Homo sapiens: one gene and its partners. The protein of the gene in region 2 purifies or fractionates together with the protein of the main gene of each other region. This does not show direct contact. Each region holds a gene or a part of one and is shown on either strand. Other genes may lie near its edges. The genes, in order: FAM234A, SLC10A2, CNNM1, PODXL2 and CNNM4.

Evidence for each region.
Region 1: the proteins of SLC10A2 (region 2) and FAM234A purify together in Homo sapiens (affinity purification with mass spectrometry; one large-scale study listed by BioGRID and IntAct). This does not show direct contact.
Region 3: the proteins of SLC10A2 (region 2) and CNNM1 purify together in Homo sapiens (affinity purification with mass spectrometry; one large-scale study listed by BioGRID and IntAct). This does not show direct contact.
Region 4: the proteins of SLC10A2 (region 2) and PODXL2 purify together in Homo sapiens (affinity purification with mass spectrometry; one large-scale study listed by BioGRID and IntAct). This does not show direct contact.
Region 5: the proteins of SLC10A2 (region 2) and CNNM4 purify together in Homo sapiens (affinity purification with mass spectrometry; one large-scale study listed by BioGRID and IntAct). This does not show direct contact.

Annotation. Positions count from the first base shown.
Region 1 is NC_000016.10:262,209-265,880, reverse strand, and holds part of FAM234A (protein FAM234A), read right to left. Parts: coding exon 3,656-3,672; intron 3,458-3,655; coding exon 3,328-3,457; intron 2,620-3,327; coding exon 2,479-2,619; intron 2,182-2,478; coding exon 2,106-2,181; intron 1,866-2,105; coding exon 1,710-1,865; intron 1,268-1,709; coding exon 1,165-1,267; intron 1,071-1,164; coding exon 859-1,070; 3' UTR 1-858.
Region 2 is NC_000013.11:103,059,892-103,063,563, reverse strand, and holds part of SLC10A2 (ileal sodium/bile acid cotransporter), read left to right. Parts: intron 1-3,672. UniProt on the Homo sapiens protein: Plays a critical role in the sodium-dependent reabsorption of bile acids from the lumen of the small intestine. Transports various bile acids, unconjugated or conjugated, such as cholate and taurocholate.
Region 3 is NC_000010.11:99,363,783-99,367,454, reverse strand, and holds part of CNNM1 (metal transporter CNNM1), read right to left. Parts: intron 3,039-3,672; coding exon 2,939-3,038; intron 2,501-2,938; coding exon 2,453-2,500; intron 1-2,452. UniProt on the Homo sapiens protein: Probable metal transporter.
Region 4 is NC_000003.12:127,635,655-127,639,326, forward strand, and holds part of PODXL2 (podocalyxin-like protein 2 precursor), read left to right. Parts: intron 1-3,590; coding exon 3,591-3,672. UniProt on the Homo sapiens protein: Acts as a ligand for vascular selectins. Mediates rapid rolling of leukocytes over vascular surfaces through high affinity divalent cation-dependent interactions with E-, P- and L-selectins.
Region 5 is NC_000002.12:96,767,312-96,770,983, reverse strand, and holds part of CNNM4 (metal transporter CNNM4 precursor), read right to left. Parts: intron 1-3,672. UniProt on the Homo sapiens protein: Probable metal transporter. The interaction with the metal ion chaperone COX11 suggests that it may play a role in sensory neuron functions. May play a role in biomineralization and retinal function.

The DNA of each region.
Region 1 (3,672 bases), on a different chromosome or scaffold from region 2:
AGGCGCTTGCCATGCCTGGGGCACGGGGCCTCTTCAGGGACAGAGCAGCTCCAGTGTCTACTGAGAGGGCACAGACTGACCCAAACACGCATTCCACAGCCAGTTCCTTGGGATATTCACAGCACATGCAGCCAGTAGACAGCTGCAACACCACTAAGGACACCTGTGAGCGGCCACGGGCTCAGCTCCAGAGCAGGCCCCACCCATCCTGCTGGGGGAGACCCTTGCTCCAGGCTTCCTCACAGGACCTGGTCAAAGGAACCAAGTCACACCCCCCATGCTAGAGGATCCCCCTGTAGCTCCGGGAAGGGCTGCGAAGCTGGAGCTGTCTCAGGTTCCCGTTGAGGCCCAGTACCCTGAGTTCCATGACTCCTTGGGGGACAGAGCACAGGAGGGAAAAGGGGAATGGACTTCTACAGGATGGGGTGGGGGACGGCCTGTCCCGGGGACACCCTGGTTCTTTCTACGCGATGGCCGCTCTGGCCTGGGGAGAAGCTGGCAAGGAGAGGGCACCGGGTAAGGATGGGGTGCTGCATGACCCAGCTCTGCCCAAGGTGGCCAGGGAGACCACTATGAAGGCTGCCTGGTGTGAGCGGGACCCTGGTGGGGTGCAGAGTGAGGCCCTGTGTGGGGACTCAGGGAGGATGCTGGGCGGGAGAGAGGCCCAGGGTGTCCCCTCACCCATGCAGGTCCCTGGGTGTGATCATGGAGGACTGGTAAGGCTGCTGCTGCCCAGTGGCGACCATCACCAGGGTCAGGAGTGGGGGAGTCAGTGCAGAGACCCAGGGAAGGGCCCACTTCCCAGGACGTTTAGTGTCAGCAGGCGGAGTCTCTCCACAGGCTCTGGCTGGCGTGCCTCTACGCCTCACTCTGGTACCGCAGCCGGGAGAACCGGTCCCTGATGGCTTGGTCACTGTCTGGCCCACCCTCACCCAGGCGGACCACCCTGCTGCTTGGGACAAGGTCCCGCACCTTGTGCTTGATCACAGAGACCAGGCCGGGTGCCTCTGAGTCTGCCGGGCCTGTCAGAAGGATGTAGGCGGCGTGGCGGCTTGGCTCAAACAGGACGGCTGCAGGGTGGGGGACACAGCTGTCAGGGCGGCTCAGGACCAGCCAGGGCAGACCCCGCGGAACACCCGGGTCCCTGGCCGAGGCCACACTCACCGTCAAAGGCGACAATGTGGGTAGAGACATTGGCCAGCTCCAGCAGCACGCGCGGCAGGGTGGGGTGGAACATGTACAGGCTGTGCCGGGCCTCCCCGGTCTCCTGGAGCGAGAACCAGCAATGGGCCCCACGCCCTTCACTGAGCACTCCCACAGGACACTGCTGTCAGAGTGACCGTGCCTGGAGCTCTATGTCTGCTAGGGGCCCTATCTGGGTCCCCCAAATGCCAGCCCCCAGTTCTGTGGCCACCTCCCAGGTCCTCCCACCCCACCTGGTCCTGACACTGGTCCTTGCCGGCAGCCACTCCCTTCAGGGCATGGCTGTGTGCGCCCCTATCCACCGAAGGCCATCAGCCCCTTCTCGCTGGACCCCTCTAAGGTCACTTTGCCTCAGCTTGCACCACCTCATCCTGACTGTCACTGGACTTCAACTTATGTGAGGTTGCCCAGGCACCGATGAGCTTCTGGGCACTCCACGGTGGAGCTCCAGCCTGGGTCTCTGGCCCCGGCTCCCAGCATGGCTGCTCCGAGGGTGGCTCCCGTACCGTCTCGCTGGTGCTCCCCAGCTCGTGGAGGCCCCAGAAGAAGAAGGCTGAGCGGTGGTCTGCGGTCGGCAGGCTGGCGGACAGTGGACCCCCAGGGAGGCTCGGGAGGGCTAGGCTACACAGGACGGCTCCAGTGCCAAGGTCCAGAAACAGGATCTGGGGAGGGAGGGGACACTGTGGGGGCCAACGTGGGGGCTACCGGGAAAAGCTCGAGGCTTGCACAGGCACACGTGCCCTCAGCCATGCCAGCCCTGGAGGCAGATGCTCTGAGGGAGGCAGAACCTTCTCAGCAGCTCTGACGGCAGCAGCCTCCTGGGCCGCAGCCCCGTCTGCTTTCAGACCAGTCTATCCTCAGCTAAGAACAAAGGTGCCACCTCCGAAGGAAGAACAACGAACCTGTCTGTCGGTGCCAGTTCCGTTTTCAACGGCTACAGCCAAGGTGTCTGGTTTGTAGCGGCCGAAGATGGGTTTTCTGGAACAATATGGAGGAAGCGCTCACGAGGGGTCTCAGTGAGGAGACTGAGATGAAGGAAGCACCCAGGAACACGTCCGCCCCTCAGTCTCCCATGGCCACATCTGGACCAGGGCCCAGGACACGGAGCCGACGTCTGGGGCAAGGGGCAAGTACCAGAGACAGGCAAGAAGCCCGGGCAGCAGCACACGGCCTCCGGCCCCACCCCCAGCGCTGTCTCCTCGCCAGCCAACGGGATGTGCCCGGGATGCCGGGAAGGGGTGCAGCACCTGCGCGGTCCTTGGGGAAACCCTGTACCTCAGGACATGGGCTGCCTTGGGTGTCCAGCGAGGCGTCAGCTCCTGCCCGTCCAGCAGCACGAAGGCCTCTGAGCCCACAAGAAGCACATCTGCACCGGCGTTCCCTGGGACATGCATCAGGTAGCGCACTGCTCCAGAGCTAGACAGGAGAGTGGGAGAAAGGGGCGCCGGGTCCCCGGGGCGGCCTCAGGCACCCAGTGGAGGCTCTGGCACCGCCCGTCTCAGGGTGCTCCTCTTAGGCCCCCATAACCCGTTTCTCAGTTCTACAGCTTGAAAAGAGAAGAGCTGGGCGCGGTGGCTCATGCCTGTAATTCCAGCACTTTGGGAGGCCGAGGCGGGCGGATCACGAGGTCAGAAGTTCGAGACCAGTCTGACCAACATGGAGAAACCCCGTCTCTACTAAAAATGCAAAAATTAGCTGGGCGTGGAGGTGCGCGCCTGTAATCCCAGCTACTCGGGAGGCTGGGGCAGGAGAATCACTTGAACCCGGGAGGCGGAGGTTGCAGTGAACCGAGATCGCACCACTGCACTCCAGCCTGGGGGACAGGGCAAGACTCCGTCTTAAAAAAAAAAAACAACCAAAAAAAAAAAAAACAGAAAAGAGAAGAAAGACCCCCACTTTCCGTGGAGACAGACAGGCACAGCGTCGGGAACCTTTCTTCTCTTTACTCAACTTTTATTTGACCATTTCTCACATCTGAGCCCAGGGTGACCTTGCGGTACCCCGAGCACCTCCCTGCCGGTGGGGCTGCTCTGGGCTCCACACAGATTGTCCGAACGCTGAGGCAGGCGAGCAGAGCCATGGGGTGGGCGCTCTGCATGGAGAAAGGCTGCGGCCCGGACCCACCTGTGGGAAAGCATCCTGCGGGTGGTGGCATTGAGCATGCTCTCCCAGTGCGGGTCACTCTTGAACGGGCCGCCGCTCCCGGTCACCTTCTCGTAGAGACCCTTCACAGAGCAGCCGCAGAGGGAGCTTGCTATTCAAAACACAGAAGGGCCCGAGGTCACCAGGGTCACGCTGTGAACCCGGACCAGGGGCACGCAGTGCCACATGGAGCCAGGCCCCTGGGCTTCCTGACTCCAGCACCTCGAGAGCAGAAGCAGGACCTGAGGAGCCGCAGGGCAGTCATGCTCCACGAGTGAGGCTGGCCAGGGATGTGGCAGAAACAACGTACCGCAGGGAAAGAGGATG
Region 2 (3,672 bases):
TTATTCTTCTGGATTAAGAACTGGATAACTAAAGTCTCCTGATAATTTACTTAGATACAATCCTATCTAACATTTATATTTCCAGTTGTGTACACTTAGAATTTTACCTTCTCCATCTCCACTTGAACTCCAGCAATGGCATGAAGACATGACTGTTTATGTTAACAGGCAGCTACACTAATTGAGCTAATGCCACACAATGCCAGCAAAACCATTCCACCTGGTTTTAACTCTCTTGGTTATGGTTCTTGGGAGAAGAAACCAAAACATTTCTCTCTCACTCTGTCATCTCTTATGAACCTGGAAAGCCACCGCATTTTGCAATCTCTAGTGACTTTGAAAAACAAAAAAAAAATAGACAATAGTCCTTGATCATTGGAATCCAGCAAGTACTATTTCAGCTCCTTCTCTGACCACTCCCAGCCTGGAGTTTGTGAATCTGATTGGTGCACATATATTTTCACCTAAGTTGCAGCTGTGCCATGGACATCACATGCACAAAAAGCATCAGGGAGAAGAGATGGTGACTTTTCAGGTGAATCTGCTTGTGGCCAAAACCCATAGTTGAGAGGACACAGAAACATCCTATCTCCTTTTTGTCTGCTCTCTCCCCAGACACAGGCAAATATCCGGTGTCTTCATCCTTCTTAATGGCCTCAGCGACACCATGCAAGGACTTCTCATTTCCTTTCTTTGGCTTCCTCTTTGGGGAATCCATTCTTATGCATCCTTCTCCCAGTTGCCCCCAGTTCCTTCCCTGCCACCTACTTTCTACATTCCTTTTTATTATTTTACAGACTTTCCTACCACATCCTTTGTTCTTTGGGCAAATGCTGTTAGATTTTTCAGCTTCCAGTGCAGCATTCATTGATATTTTAGATATTCAAGAAATCTCACCCTGTAGCTTACCACAAATTCACAGCAATCAATCCTTCCTATGTCAACCCCATAAATGTCCTTCTCTTCTCTACTCTGGGAGACCTAACCCAAAACCATTCGGCTTTTTCCTTTATTCTCCCTAAAAGTAACCAAACATTGTTTCTCTCCAGTAGCACTGATTTTACTAGCTAATATTTATTAAACACTAGTATATGCCATGCACAGTGCTAAGTACTCAAAATAAGTTGGTATATTTCATCCTCCCAAGAATCCTCTAAAGTTAGTACTATTATTTTCTGCATTTGGCAGATAATGAAGTTAAGATTCATAACCTTGACCAAGGTCATTGAGTCAATGTATGCCTGAGTCAGAATTGGAATCACCCAGGTCTACCCACTACCACTTTGCAGGCTCATAAGCTTTCTCTACACTGCTTCTATCACTTTTCACTTCTCCAGTTTCTAGCACTGCCTATATACGCTACGTTAGAGCCTTCAAACTTGGTATTTTACTTCTAATATGATTACAATCTTTTACATTGCTTAACACTGATTTCACTGAATTCCTCAACATTCACTAAATTTACATTTATTCTTTCTTTTATTTCCATACACACAAAAGAAAATCTCCCTGGCAGTTAATAGAGCTGAAGTCAAAATTAAGACCAAGATTTTTTTTTTATTTTTCTTATACTTGACTCTTTTCTGTCAGTCTAATATAAATTCAAGGCAGTGTATGTATTTTTTATATACATGCCTTTTATAGAACTTCAGATTTTTTCGTGTAAGATAATATTTTCTTTTGCTAATTTAGGCTTCTATATTATTTCTTAAAATTCGTTATCTGTGAATTGTTTTAAATCTCATTTTGAGTGGTTTGATTTTGTTCTTATATTCATTCAAATAGCATCAACTTCCAGCTACCTATTCGTCTGTTCATCTGCAAGGTCTCTTCGTCAGTGCTGCTCACAAGTCTAAACCTTTCCTTCTCCAAACCCTCTTTTGTCCCTCATCACGATCCTTAAGAAACTGCTCTCACCAAACTCAAAATTATGATACAACGTCATAGATTGTCTTAGCAATATTCAGAATTAAAGGTTTTGCAAGGATCTTTGAAAAAAAAACAAAGACAGAAAAAGACTTCCTTCTTAAACATTTTCTCACATTTTAAAACAAAAATTCTCAGACTTCTCTTCACTGGAACCCAGTTAATAAATCCTCCTCACTTCCCCACCAGATTCCCACCACACTCTAGAAAAAAATATTGGATGCACAGAAAAAAAAGTGATTTTATTATAGGGACAACTTTAAATCCATTCTAATATATTTTTTAAAATAAAATAAAAAAAAAGAGAACACTGAAAGAAGAGAGGAAGGAACAGAGAAAAAAATTACCTTCAAACTCCAGTACTTTCATTATAAGTAGGACAAAGTACTATTAATAACAAATTAACTTGTTTGTCTGGTGTACAATTCTGCCTTAGCATCTATTTCATGCCTAAATTTACCTATAACCAGAATAGATTGAACTGCTTAAAGTTTTAAATACATCCACATTATTTGTTACTGTTGTAATATTTTAGCTCTACTAAAACAAGTATTTTTATCTAAATTATTTAAGCCTATTTTAAATGAGGTCATTCTGGTTAAAAATAAATATATTATTAGAGAAGTTAAGCTCTCTGATGAACTTTGTCCCACCCTGTATTTTGCCAAACTGTGCAAATTTAACTGTGCCTTGAAACAAAATTTCTCATTGTTAGCTCCTTTCTTAGTATAGTGTGTTGTTGTTGTTGTTGTTTTGGGGGGCAGGTAATATAAATATTTAACATTTTCTTTCAAGTACACCCATAATACCCTTAAGAAATTACTACTCTTGACAACCTCAATGACGACCTGTTGAGAGAAGGGCCTTTCAGAGAAATTTCTCATTTCTCTAAGTTTCCCGATTCTATTTGGTGGAACACAAGATACAAAAACATGGTAACATAAATGATCACAGCAGAGAGATGCAGGGTGCGGTGGCTCCCGCCTGTAATCCCAGCACTTTGGAAGGCCTAGGCGAGCGGATCACCTGAGCCCAGGAGTTTGAGACCAGCCTGGACAACATGGTGAAACCCCATCTCTACAAAAAATTTAAAAATTAGCCTGGCATGGTGGCTCATGCCTGTATTCCCAGCTACTCGGGAGGCTGAGGTGCAAAGATCACTTGAGCCCAGGCTTCAGTGAGCCAAGTTGGTGACCCTGTACTCTGGCCTGGGTGACAGAGAGAGACCCTATTTAAAAAAAAAAAAAAAAAAAAAATGGTAGTAGCAACCAGCTCTTAATAGAGTGCTTTGCATTGGTCTAAGTGCCGGACACCATTGGCTCATTCTATCCTTACAGCCATTTTAGATAAGGAAACTGGTAAAGAGAAGTCAACTAAATTACTCAAATTAACACACTAAGTGGCACCGCCTGCTTTCAGCCCAGACAGTGTGTGGCTTTAGAGCTCAGGCTTTAAAGGCAGAGAATGTACGCTGTGTACAGATCCCTTTGAAGAGGACCCGGAAGACTCACTCCCCAAAAATCTTTCTTTGACCCACTGTCCTAGTACTAGAGATAGCATCATTTGGCATTAATGTCTCCATGTAGATAGCCTACTCAGCCAGACCCTCTTATTAAAATGCAAACACTCTGAGCAGGGATGATACCAGACACTAGTTCTTCTGAACACACATTTGCCAAATTGCCAATAACTTACTCAGTGCTAAGAATTTATGTCTACCCTGCCGCTTGCATGCTTTCTTTTGAT
Region 3 (3,672 bases), on a different chromosome or scaffold from region 2:
GTTCCTGGCAATCAGAACCAAGAAGAAGAAGACAGTGTAGATTATGTTCCCTTCACCTCATGCAGGAAAGCCAGAGACTTCTTTGTAGCCTCAAGTTCAACTTTGAAGCATAGGTCATCGTGCCAGTATTCCAGCAAACTCATAATCTCACTCCTCATCCTCAAAGGCTGATTAAGCTAGCTTCAAGCATAGGGGGACGGGGCTGGGCCAAGACCCTACAAGATTTTATTGCCTTTTAGCTTAGACTTAAGCTCTCCCTCAACCTATAGGTTGAGGTTCTTGGCCAGTGAAAGATGCTGGGTGGCTGGACCATGGGCTGAGCATTCACCCGGGATAACTGTGGGGTATGGCTGGCCTTTGCAGTTACTTCACACTTCACTACACTAAGTATGGGTTCGGGGAGGATGGAAAATGTCTTTTTACCCCATTGGCTAATAATATTTCTTTTTCCTTCTGAAGATTTACAGAGATGCTCAGTAACATGGGGAGAGAAAGAGAAAGAGTGCTATGTTTCTTTTCAGTTAACTAGTTTTAAAGGAGAAATCAATGTTGCAACTTTATTTCTATCTCACTGATGCAACTGAAAGCTTTTGAAAGAAAGAACTAGAAACAGGAAGGAAGGAAAGGAAGAAATCAGATAACATCTTCCTTCTACTTAAAACAATTTTTTTTTTGAGATGGAATCTTGCTCTGTAGCCAGGCTGGAGTACGGTGGCATGATCTTGGCTCACTGCAACCTCCACCTCCCAAGTTCAAGTGATTCACCTGCCTCAGCCTCCCTAGTAGCTGGGATCAAAGGCACGTGCTACCATGCCTGGCTAATTTTTGTATTTTTAGTAGAGACAAGGTTTCACCATGTTGGCCAGGATGGTCTCGATCTCCTGACCATGTGATCCACCCGTCCTGGCCTCCCAAAGTGCTGGGATTACAGGTGAGAGCCACCATGCCCGGCCACAGCAATTTCTTTTTTTTTTTTTTTAAGAAAGAAGGTCATATAAATTGGGTGGGCTAGGAAGCCATATGTAGGTCTTTTTTTCTCAGAATTTCCACCTCTTTTAGTCTTCTGGAAGAGATCACAGACATTTCTAGGTAACATATTAGAATCCCAGGAGTAGTCCCTAATGTGATGGATGATGGAGATTTCCTTTAGAGAACTAAGGTTTGCCAAAGTCCTGTAGCCCGTCCCTCACCCATCCAGAGTTCTACTGAACACTAATGCTTCCTTCATCAACCTTGATTGAGATTCATTGTCTTAAGTATAATAATGTACCAGGGTCTTTTCAATTTTACAGATCTCCTCCAACTCAAGTTCTGCCACTCTTCACACTGGGCAGGTACTTCATTTCAACCACTGGCTGGGCTATTACACTGTAACAATTACACTGTAAATTGTTCCACTATTTCCACTTAGAAATTGCATTCCAGAATATGATGGATCTGAAATCTGTATTTTATTGTGCTGTGTGAACTAGCCAGGACACCAGGAAGCATCTTGGCCGGTCACCAACTTACTGGGTGATTTGAAGCAAGTCATTTCCTTAGTTTCACTCATGTTAAAATGGTATCTACCTTGCCATGTTCCAGGGACTATGATATCAAGCTCTGGGACCCTCTGATAATTCCCACCACAAGGCAATATGTAAAATCTTTTTTTATGATGAGAGGAAAGACCCTATTTGGCATTGAAGTGGTCACTGTAAACACTAACAGCTGAAAGCAATGCAAAATTCAGAACTGTGAATCAGAAAGAAATCTAGAGAAATAATTCTTTCTGTATCACACTTTTAATCACAAAAAATGCCATGCCCTTTAAGCACAAGTGCAATAACTACACAGAAAACAGCAAGAAGGCACAGCACAGAAAGGGCAGAGCAAACCAGCCATCAGCCCTGTGCCTGCCCCCCACCAACAGCATGCACAGCCAGCTGGCAGATACCTCTCCACTAGCTGAGAGGTGGAGAACCAAGAAAGAGAGGCAGATAAGCAACGTATTGCACAAAGGTGGAACTTACATCCCCAAATCTTGCAGTCACTTCTTACTGAGGACAAACCCCACAGACACAATAATAGCATATGACAGTGTTTGAGTAAAGGCCATGGGTGAATTGTTATTGCACAGAAGGAAGGGCTGAGCCTCTGCCCAAGCACACAAATCACCTGCCTGCATTCACTGGAAGGTGGCAATAAGCAGTGCCTTCCCTCACAACCCCTGCATCCCCCCAACCATGTGAGCAGAGAAGCAGCAGAAAACATTCCAGACACACAGAACCTAAGCTCCCATGGTCTGTGGGTACCTGGCAGGAAGCAGTGTTCCTGGCAGAACATTACAAAGGGGCTGCCAGCATTTGTCTTAGCCCCAGCCCAGGCTCAAAGTGCTCGGTCCAGGTCCCCAGAGCGGGCTGAGGCAGGACTACGATGGGGAGGACGAGGAAGGGGTTTGAGAGATACATACGAAAGACAGAAGATCCAGCCAGACTTCCAACCTTCCGCACGTCATTATCTAAGGACAGAAGCATGCAGTGGGTTTCAGAGGCAACTCAGAAAACACACTTCTTATGGGAATCTTCCCTCTTCTATCCACCCCCAGCACCAATTAACCCTGTAAAAACCAGGCAATTAAATGGAAGGGTAGGGAACAAGTATAAAAAGCAAAATAAACTTGTCTTTTCATACTGAAATCTACCACCCTAGATCCCTAACACTTGACAATATTACTGCTTTTTACAATTCAATTTTTTGTCACTTTTTTTTTAAGCACTAACTGAATGAAAAGTGATTCATACACCCATTTTGCAGAGGAAGGAACTAAAGCCAAGGAAGTTAAATGGCTTGTCCAGGCTGATTAACAAGAGTCAAAGGGGGAGTCAAGACTTGAACCCCTGTGCTTTTTCTACCATATCCCATTACTTTCCCAATAAACAAATGGAAACTAGAATACCTGAGCAAGCAGTGGTCATGATGGCTGGGACGCCATAGTAAGTAAAGGCTCCATTTTCAAAGCGAAGGCCTTCCTTACCAACCTCCACCTCCACTTTACCCTGGAAAAAAAAAAAAGGAAGTGTACTATGAATGTGTATGAGCACTTCCAGTTCTACTATTGACTCGAATCCTAAGCATTTCTGCTTGGATAACAAGTGGACTAGACCCATGTTCTTATCACAGAGGAATGTTAATTCTCTCCAGATTTACATGTGAGAAAGCACCACCAGCTTTAATAGCTCTTTGCAGTAAATTCAGTGCTTCGTTGTTCATAAAATAGCATCCAGTCATGAATAACCAAGCTGTCCTTGCATACTGTAGTGGCCCTTCCATGATGCAGGCCTAAGCACCAGCTAATCCAGGGCCTCATAAACTGCCCCACTGGTTTAGTCCAAGATTGGACCATTTCTAAGTCAGGTCAAGATAAAATCTAGGCCGAGTGCGGTGGCTCACACCTGTAATCCCAGCACTTTGGGAGGCCAAGGTGGGTGGATCACGAAGTCAGGAGTTTGAGACTAGCCTGGCCAATATGGTGAAACCCCATCTCTACTAAACATACAAAAATTAGCTGGGTGTGGTGGTGCATGCCTGTAGTCCTAGCTACTCAGGAGACTGAGGCAGGAGAATCACTTGAACCAGGGAGGCAGAGGTTGCAGTGAGCTGAGATCGGGCCACTGCACTCCAGCCTGGGTG
Region 4 (3,672 bases), on a different chromosome or scaffold from region 2:
CAAATTGTTGGGCCCCGTCACAGACCAGCTGGATTCAGAACTCTAGGGTGGGCTTAACAGTCTCTGTTTTAACAAGCCCTCATGGTGATTCCATGCTGGTTCAAGTTTGAAAGCACTGGATTAAAACGGTAGCCATTTATTTAGCTCATGATTCTGTAGTTTGGCAATTTAGGCTGCAGTCAGCTGGGTGGTTCTGGTCTCAGCTGAACTCCTTCAAGTTTGTCATCAGCTGTTTATCACCTTTGCTGGTCTTGTCTGGCTCTCTCACTTTGGGACTTCAGCTAGGACACTGAGCTGATCTGGCTCTCTTCTGCATGGGCTCCTGTTTTCCTGCAGGCTAGCCTTGAGCAGAATCCTGAGAGAATGGAAGCGTGCAAGGTATCTTGATGCCTAGCCTTGGAAATGGCACATCATCACTTCTGCATTGTCTTGTGTAGCAACTCACAAAGGTAGCTCAGATTCAAGGAGTGGAGAATTAGATTTCATCTCTTGATGGGAGGAGCTACAAAGTCTCATTGCAAAGATGTGTGTTATTAATTGGGAGTCATTGGATAACCCCTCTCAGGAAGAACCTTAAGAAGGTACTGTTTTGGGGTAGGACAGGGCACTCTGTTTCTTTCCCATCTACCTAGTAGGGGATAGATACTGCTTTCTTCTATAATATTCGGGCTAGGAAAAAATCCAAGAGTAGCTTAGGGTCCCCCCGTGATGTGAAGGGGAATTAGAGTGGAAGAGGTCATGGGAAAGTCTTGAGCTAGAGAGAGTACAAGTCCTTAATTCATCCTCTCCCAGGAACAAAGGGGAACTTCAAGGGGAGTGGACCCCAAATTGATTGTCTTGGCTTTCTCTGCCTTTTAAATACCTTTGGCTCAAAGAAACCACAAAATATGAGATGGCTGTTTCTCTCTTTGAGTCAGGGATTCAGACACAGGCTCTGGGAACATGACTTCAGCTTCGTGGAGCCAGGCCCTGCCTGGAAGCAGAATCTTTGTCCGTGGACATGGTGCCTAGGACAGCAGAAGACATTCCGGATGGGGTGTGATAGCTTCCTGGTTTGGACTTGGCAGAAGGCAATCCCCTGTGAGCAGTCCTCAGGAGCACTGGCAACACAGCAGTGCCATTGGCTCCCACCTGCCCAGGGTCACAGCTTGCCCACCCTTTAGGTATTTTTTTATTTTTATTTTTTTGAGACAGAGTCTCACTCTGTCGCCCAGGCTGGAGTGCAATGGCACCATCTTGGTTCACTGCAATCTCTGCCTCCCGGGTTCAAGCAATTCTCCTGCCTTAGCCTACCAAGTAGCTGGAGACTACATGCGTGTGCCACCATGCCCAGCTAGTTTTTGTGTTTTAGGAGAGACTAGTTTTGCCACATTGGCCAGGCCTGTCTCGACCTCTTGACCTCAAGTGATCCGCCCGCCTCGGCCTCCCAAAGTGCTGGGATTTACAGGTGTGAGCCACCACACCCAGCCCCATCCTCTAGTTATGATGATACTTTCTAAAGCTGAGAGTTGGGCCTGTGAATTATCTTATTGAGAGACAGAGCTTCACGGGATCTTAGAGGTTGGCACAGACGTTTACTAGCCCTGGTCAGATGCTAAGGCTCTGATGCCTCCTTAGCCCCGGCGTTGGCTTTGAGGCCATGTAGAATCACTCTGATATTCTTATTCACATCAACCTTTTGTTTTAATGTATTTGAAGATACCATGGTCTCTTTTAAATATTTTTTTCCCCGGGCCATGAACTTCACAGGTCTCTGTTTTTTATATAGGATAATAACACAATATTTGTAGAATAGTTTGGTTTGTAAAGCTCTTTGTAGAGCAGCTTTCACACATGGCTCACCAATTACCTCATTTGGTGCCCCTCACACTGGAGGCATGGTAGGAATTGGTGTCCTTATTACACAGAGGAGGAGAGCAAGGCTGGTGGTGGTGAAGTCACTCAGCCAGAGAAGCCAGAGTGTAACCTATTTCCTGGTACCAGGCTTTCTCTCCTGTTATATAGAACATCTTCCTGTCTCTGACCTCAGGGCGTCTCTCTTACCCTGGAGTCTCTACTTCCCATCCCCCATCCACACAACCCAGAATACACCCCTGTGGCTGGATGTGGCATTATTGGCTGTGAGTTGTCTGGCTGCTGCACAGTGTGCACAGACTCCCTCATACGGAGACTCACAGGACAGTCTGAAATGCTCATTTTTTTCAGTGGCCAGTCACAGTATTGGCACGTATCAAGCTTAGGGCCTGCTCAGCAAAGCACATGGCACCAATAATATTAGCCCTATTTTTATTATAAGCATCACTAAAAATTGCCATGTACTGTAGTCAAGTCAGGTCACAGTACACATCTGGTGTAGAGCAAGAGGAAGACTGTGAAATTCCCTCTTCCCTAGATCCTTAAGTGTTAGTCTTGGAAAAGAATTCAGAGGTCATTTCATTTAGCTTCCTTGTCTATCTGGTGAGGAGACTGAGACCCAGAGGTCTTGAGCAGCTTTCCAGGAGCCTCACAGCAAGTTAGTAATTTGTGTGGTTAGGTCATTAAGTTAGAGGTTAAGTTGTGAAACTGGCAAATAGGGCTATATTCCTGTCCTTAAAGAATGAGAGTGAAAGAAGAGGAAAAAGGCCTCCTTTAATTTGTTTTCCTGTCCATTTATTTGCTTGTTTTGGTAAATTAGGAGAGAGAGAGAATCCAAGATTCTAAACAAATATGTCAAATTACCAGCACTGGGTTGAGTTTGAACTGTGACCTCACGTGGTTTTTTAAAAGACTACGTTCAGAGGCTGGGCTCAGTGGCGCACGCCTGTAATGCCAGCACTTTGGGAGGCCTAGGAGGGCAGATCACTTGAGGTCACGAGTTCAAAACCAGCCTGACCAACATGGCGAAACCCTGTCTGTACTAAAAATACAAAAATTAGCCAGGCGTGGTGGTGGGCACCTGTAATGCCAGCTACTTGGGGGGCTGAGGCAGGAGAATCACTTGAACCTGGGAGGCGGAGATTGCAGTGAGCCAAGATTGCACCACTGTACTCCAGCCTGGGCGACAGAGCAAGACTCCATCTCAAAAAAAATAAAAAATAAAAAAACTAAAGACTATGTTCAGGATACTGTATTGCTGAAATACAAATGATATTCATAATGCAGTTTTGGAGAAATTTCAGCCAAGGATGGAAGCCTGGGGAACACTGTGTTCGTCCAATCATACTGCTAGGTCCTTAAAAGCATGGGCCCTGTCTTCACTTCAGTTTGTAGCTCCAACACCCAGTACAATTGCCAACAGAGAGAGGGTACTCAGGAGGCATTTTCTGAGTGACCACATGCGCAGTGGAACACTGACTCAGTGATTCCTCTCTCTCCCCTGCCTGTCTCCATCTGTCTCCCCTTGCCCCTGCCATAGGGAAGTCTAAGCAATTTGGCCTTTTTGAAATGAAAATAGTGTCTCAGAATCCCCGCAAAGCCTCTGGGTTTTCAGGAGTGTCCACTGAAGTCCCCCCTTCCCCAGGACCTTTGTCATTTGAGACATGCTCTAACCTGGCACCAGTCTTGTGTCTTCTCTAGCCTCCCCTGACTGTCTGGCTTTTATGTCTGCACAGGAGCGTTCCTGGGTGCCTGTGTGGCTGGGTCTGATGAGCCTGGCCCAGAGGGCCTCACCTCCACCTCCCTGCTAGACCTCCT
Region 5 (3,672 bases), on a different chromosome or scaffold from region 2:
GAGTTCCAAGAATCCCTAAGACCACAGGAAGGCTTTGAGACAGCCTGTCCATCCCCCACGGGCTGGGGAGAAGGAACCAGGAGGCTCTGCGAAAATCAGTCACCAAGGCAGCGACAGAGGCCTGGCCCAGGCTGCCTTTCCATACACACTCTCCATGGCTGCGCGGCCTTTCAGGAGCCAGCGCTCAGTGCAGGACAACCATGCTGGCCCCTGCCCTCAAGGAGACTGGAGGCCTGTAGTAGCGACTCCTTCAGAGGGGCCAGGCTTCCTTCCCCTCAAAGATGTCCTTGCTGTTCAGTCAACCAGGTTCATGTGGGAGGGGTGCAGAGAGAAGGCACCCAGGGATCCGCACCGCCAAGTCCGTCTAGAAAAGGAGGGGAAGCAGCCCGGGAGGCCTGAGCCACACCCCCAAAGCTGCTGCGAAGGACGGTGAGGCTCACCTCTCAGCCTTCGGGTCTTGTCCAAGCTCTCCCAGGGCAACACGTACCAGAGTGGAAAACGCCATGTCTACCCGCCCTAGCAAATTCCGCTGAAATGTCTTCCCAGACTTTTACTTACGAGACAGGCCTCCCCTTCCCAAGGGCCCCCTGCTGATCCTGTAGGGCCATTCCCTGATGTTGTGCTCCTGTGTATTCACCCATTTTCAAGGTTAAACATCTGCTCGGTGCTTCCCGTCCTGACCAGAGGTGAGCAGAAAAACACTGGAGCGGGATTTCCTAGTTAAAAATACGAGACCTTTGAAAAGTAAACACCAGAATAACTAAGAACCTATCAGGGCCTCGATGCACAGCATTGCCTTCCATTGCACAAACAAGAGCTCTGAGAAGAGAACTGTCAAGTGAAGACACGTGAGTGTCCTCTCAGTGCTGGCTCCTCTTTGGGAACCCGCCCATAGGCTGCATGGGGCCAGCCAGGAAGGAGGTGCAGCTGCCCACTGGCTGGCACGCACCAGGCCCCTCCACGTGCTCATGTTCCCTTCCCACAGCACTGCACTAAAGGGAAAGTGAGAAGGAGCCTGGCCACAGCTCTGTCAGCTGTCCCTGCTGGGACCTCTGCCTGCACCCGGAGTATTAACCAGCTCCTGTCACTCTCAGATACACCTGCCCCCAGGCAGCTTCTTGAGATCAAATCACCATATTGAGGCTATTACCAGGCAGGGCTGACGGAGAACCGGTGCAAAGCTGCCTTCGGGCACCACTTGTCCGAGGCTGCTCTCGCTGGGCACCCCACAGCCTAAGGTCCCATCCCACAGTCTGTGCATGGTCTTCACCCCATCTGACCCTCCAAGGAGGCTCCCGAATAGCGTGCCCCCTTGGTTCTCTTCGTCTCCATCAAGGAGTCGCCTCAGCCTGGCTTTTACACACTGACACCCCCTGCACTGTCCTTTCCTCTCTCACACATTCTTTTTTTTTTTTTTTTTGAGACAGAGTCTCACTCTGTCACCCAGGCTGGAGTGCAATGGCGCGATCTCGGCTCACTGCAACCTCCGCCTCCCGATTCAAGCTATTCTCCTGCCTCAGCCTCCGCAGTAGCTGGGATTACAGGCACCCACCACCACGCCTAATTTTTGTATTTTTAGTAGAGACGGGGTTTCACCATGTTGGTCAGGCTGGTCTTGAACTCCTGACCTCAGGTGATCCACCTGCCTCAGCCTCCCAAAGTGCTGGGATTACAAAGCCACTGTGCCCAGCAGCTCTCCATTCTGCCTGCTCTTGGCCGACTCCTTTTTTATTGAGACGGAGTCTCGCTCTGTTGCCCAGGCTGGAGTGCAGTGGCGCGATCTCGGCTCACTGCAAGCTCCACCTCCCGGGTTCACACCATTCTCCTGCCTCAGCCTCCCGAGTAGCTGGGACTACAGGCGCCCACCACCACACCCAGCTAATTTTTTGTATTTTTAGTAGAGACAGGGTTTTACCGTGTTAGCCAGGATGGTCTCGATCTCCTGACCTCATGATCCGCCCGCCTCGGCCTCCCAAAGTGCTGGGATTACAGGCGTAAGCCACCGCACCCGGCCTCTTGGCTGACTCTTAAACCTTTTAGCGTTGTCCTGGCCTTGCTCCTCAGCCTCACGTGGGCATTTTCCCCTGCATGCCTGCCTAGATGTTACTGCACACTGGTGTGGTCCAGGGCCAGCAGCATGGGCATCATCTGAGAACCTGTCAGAAATGCAGACTCTCGGGCCACACCCAGACCCACTGAGTTCAAGTCTGCATTTCAACAAAATGTCCAGGCAGTCGAGTGTGAGAAGCTCCAGTGTAAACAATGCTGGGCACGGAGAAGGAGCTCAGCAACGGGTCACACCATTATTATGACCACCACTTACCTCCCTCTGCCCTCACTAAACTGTCTCTTCGTCCCCCTTTCCCGATTGCAGTTAAATGACATAATCAACCTGAATCCCAAGCTAGAAACCTCAGACTTTCACAACTACTTCCGGGCCCTGACTCCCAGATCTCCACAAGGATCAACGAGTCTAGTTACTCTCACTTCAGAAGCATCTCACAGGCCTGCCCTCCCTCAGCCCCACGGCACCCTATCTGTGAGCTCTGTGCAGCTAGGCGTTGTTCACGTGTCTCTCTCCTTGGTAGACTGTGAGTTCTGTGAACAGGGCAGTTTTATTCATCTCTGATTCCCAACAGCCTGCACAGTGTCTGACACAGAGGCTTCAAAACGGTCACTGTTGGTTGAACAAATGGATGAATAAGCAGGTGCGGATGGGAGGGTGGGGTGTGGAGGATAAGTTACTTAAGGTGTGTCAGATAAGAGGAACCAAAAGTGAATGCAAAAATCATGCAGTGTTTTTTCTCAACTTCATAAAGTTGTTGCGGGAATAAAATTAAGTCAGTGGGAAAATCTGACACAGCCTAGATGAAAATATGGGTGTTTTGTTGTTGTTGTTGTTTCGTTTTGTTTTGTTTTTTGAGACAGAGTCTTGCTCTATCGCCCAGGCTGGAGTGCAGTGGTGCAATCTCAGCTCACTGCAACCTCCGTTCAAGCGATTCTCCTGCCTCAGCCACCCCAGTAGCTGGGATTATAGGCATGTGCCATCATACCCAGCTAATTTTTGCATTTTTTTAGTAAAGATGGGGTTTTGCCATGTTGGCCAGGCTGGTCTCGAACTCCTAGCCTCAAGTGACCCACCCAAAGAGCTCCCAAAGTGCTAGGATTACAGGCGTGAGCCACAGCCAGGAGGATTTTTTTAATGAAAATATTTCTAGCTTTTCCCCACCAATTTATACTGCACTACCTTGCTGAGAGGAGGAGTAACAGGTCCAAGGCCACCTCACAGGTCAGTGACCAGGCTGGCTGGAGTTACACCCAGGTCTATACAGGGTCTAGGTGGTTATAAGGTGGGTGGGGAAAGATAAGGTGTTTAAAGATGAGCTAAGTACCTGGGAGGGAAGGAGTGTCCCAGAGGGTGAGGCACAGCTAGAAGCTGGAAGGTGGGCTGCAAGGGGGGTGCAGAGCTCTGCCCTCTTCCTTCATTACTTAGCTTCAGGGTCTGGGAGAGTGGTGAAGGCAAAACACAAACTGGGGCAGGAGGAGCTGGAGGTGGCTTTGTTCTGAGATTCCAAGGTGGACAAACCCACCCACAACACCCAGTACTGCAAACAGTTCCAGGCGAGGTTTAAGCGGAAGGGCCAAGGTTCAAATCACAGGAGACTCTCAGGC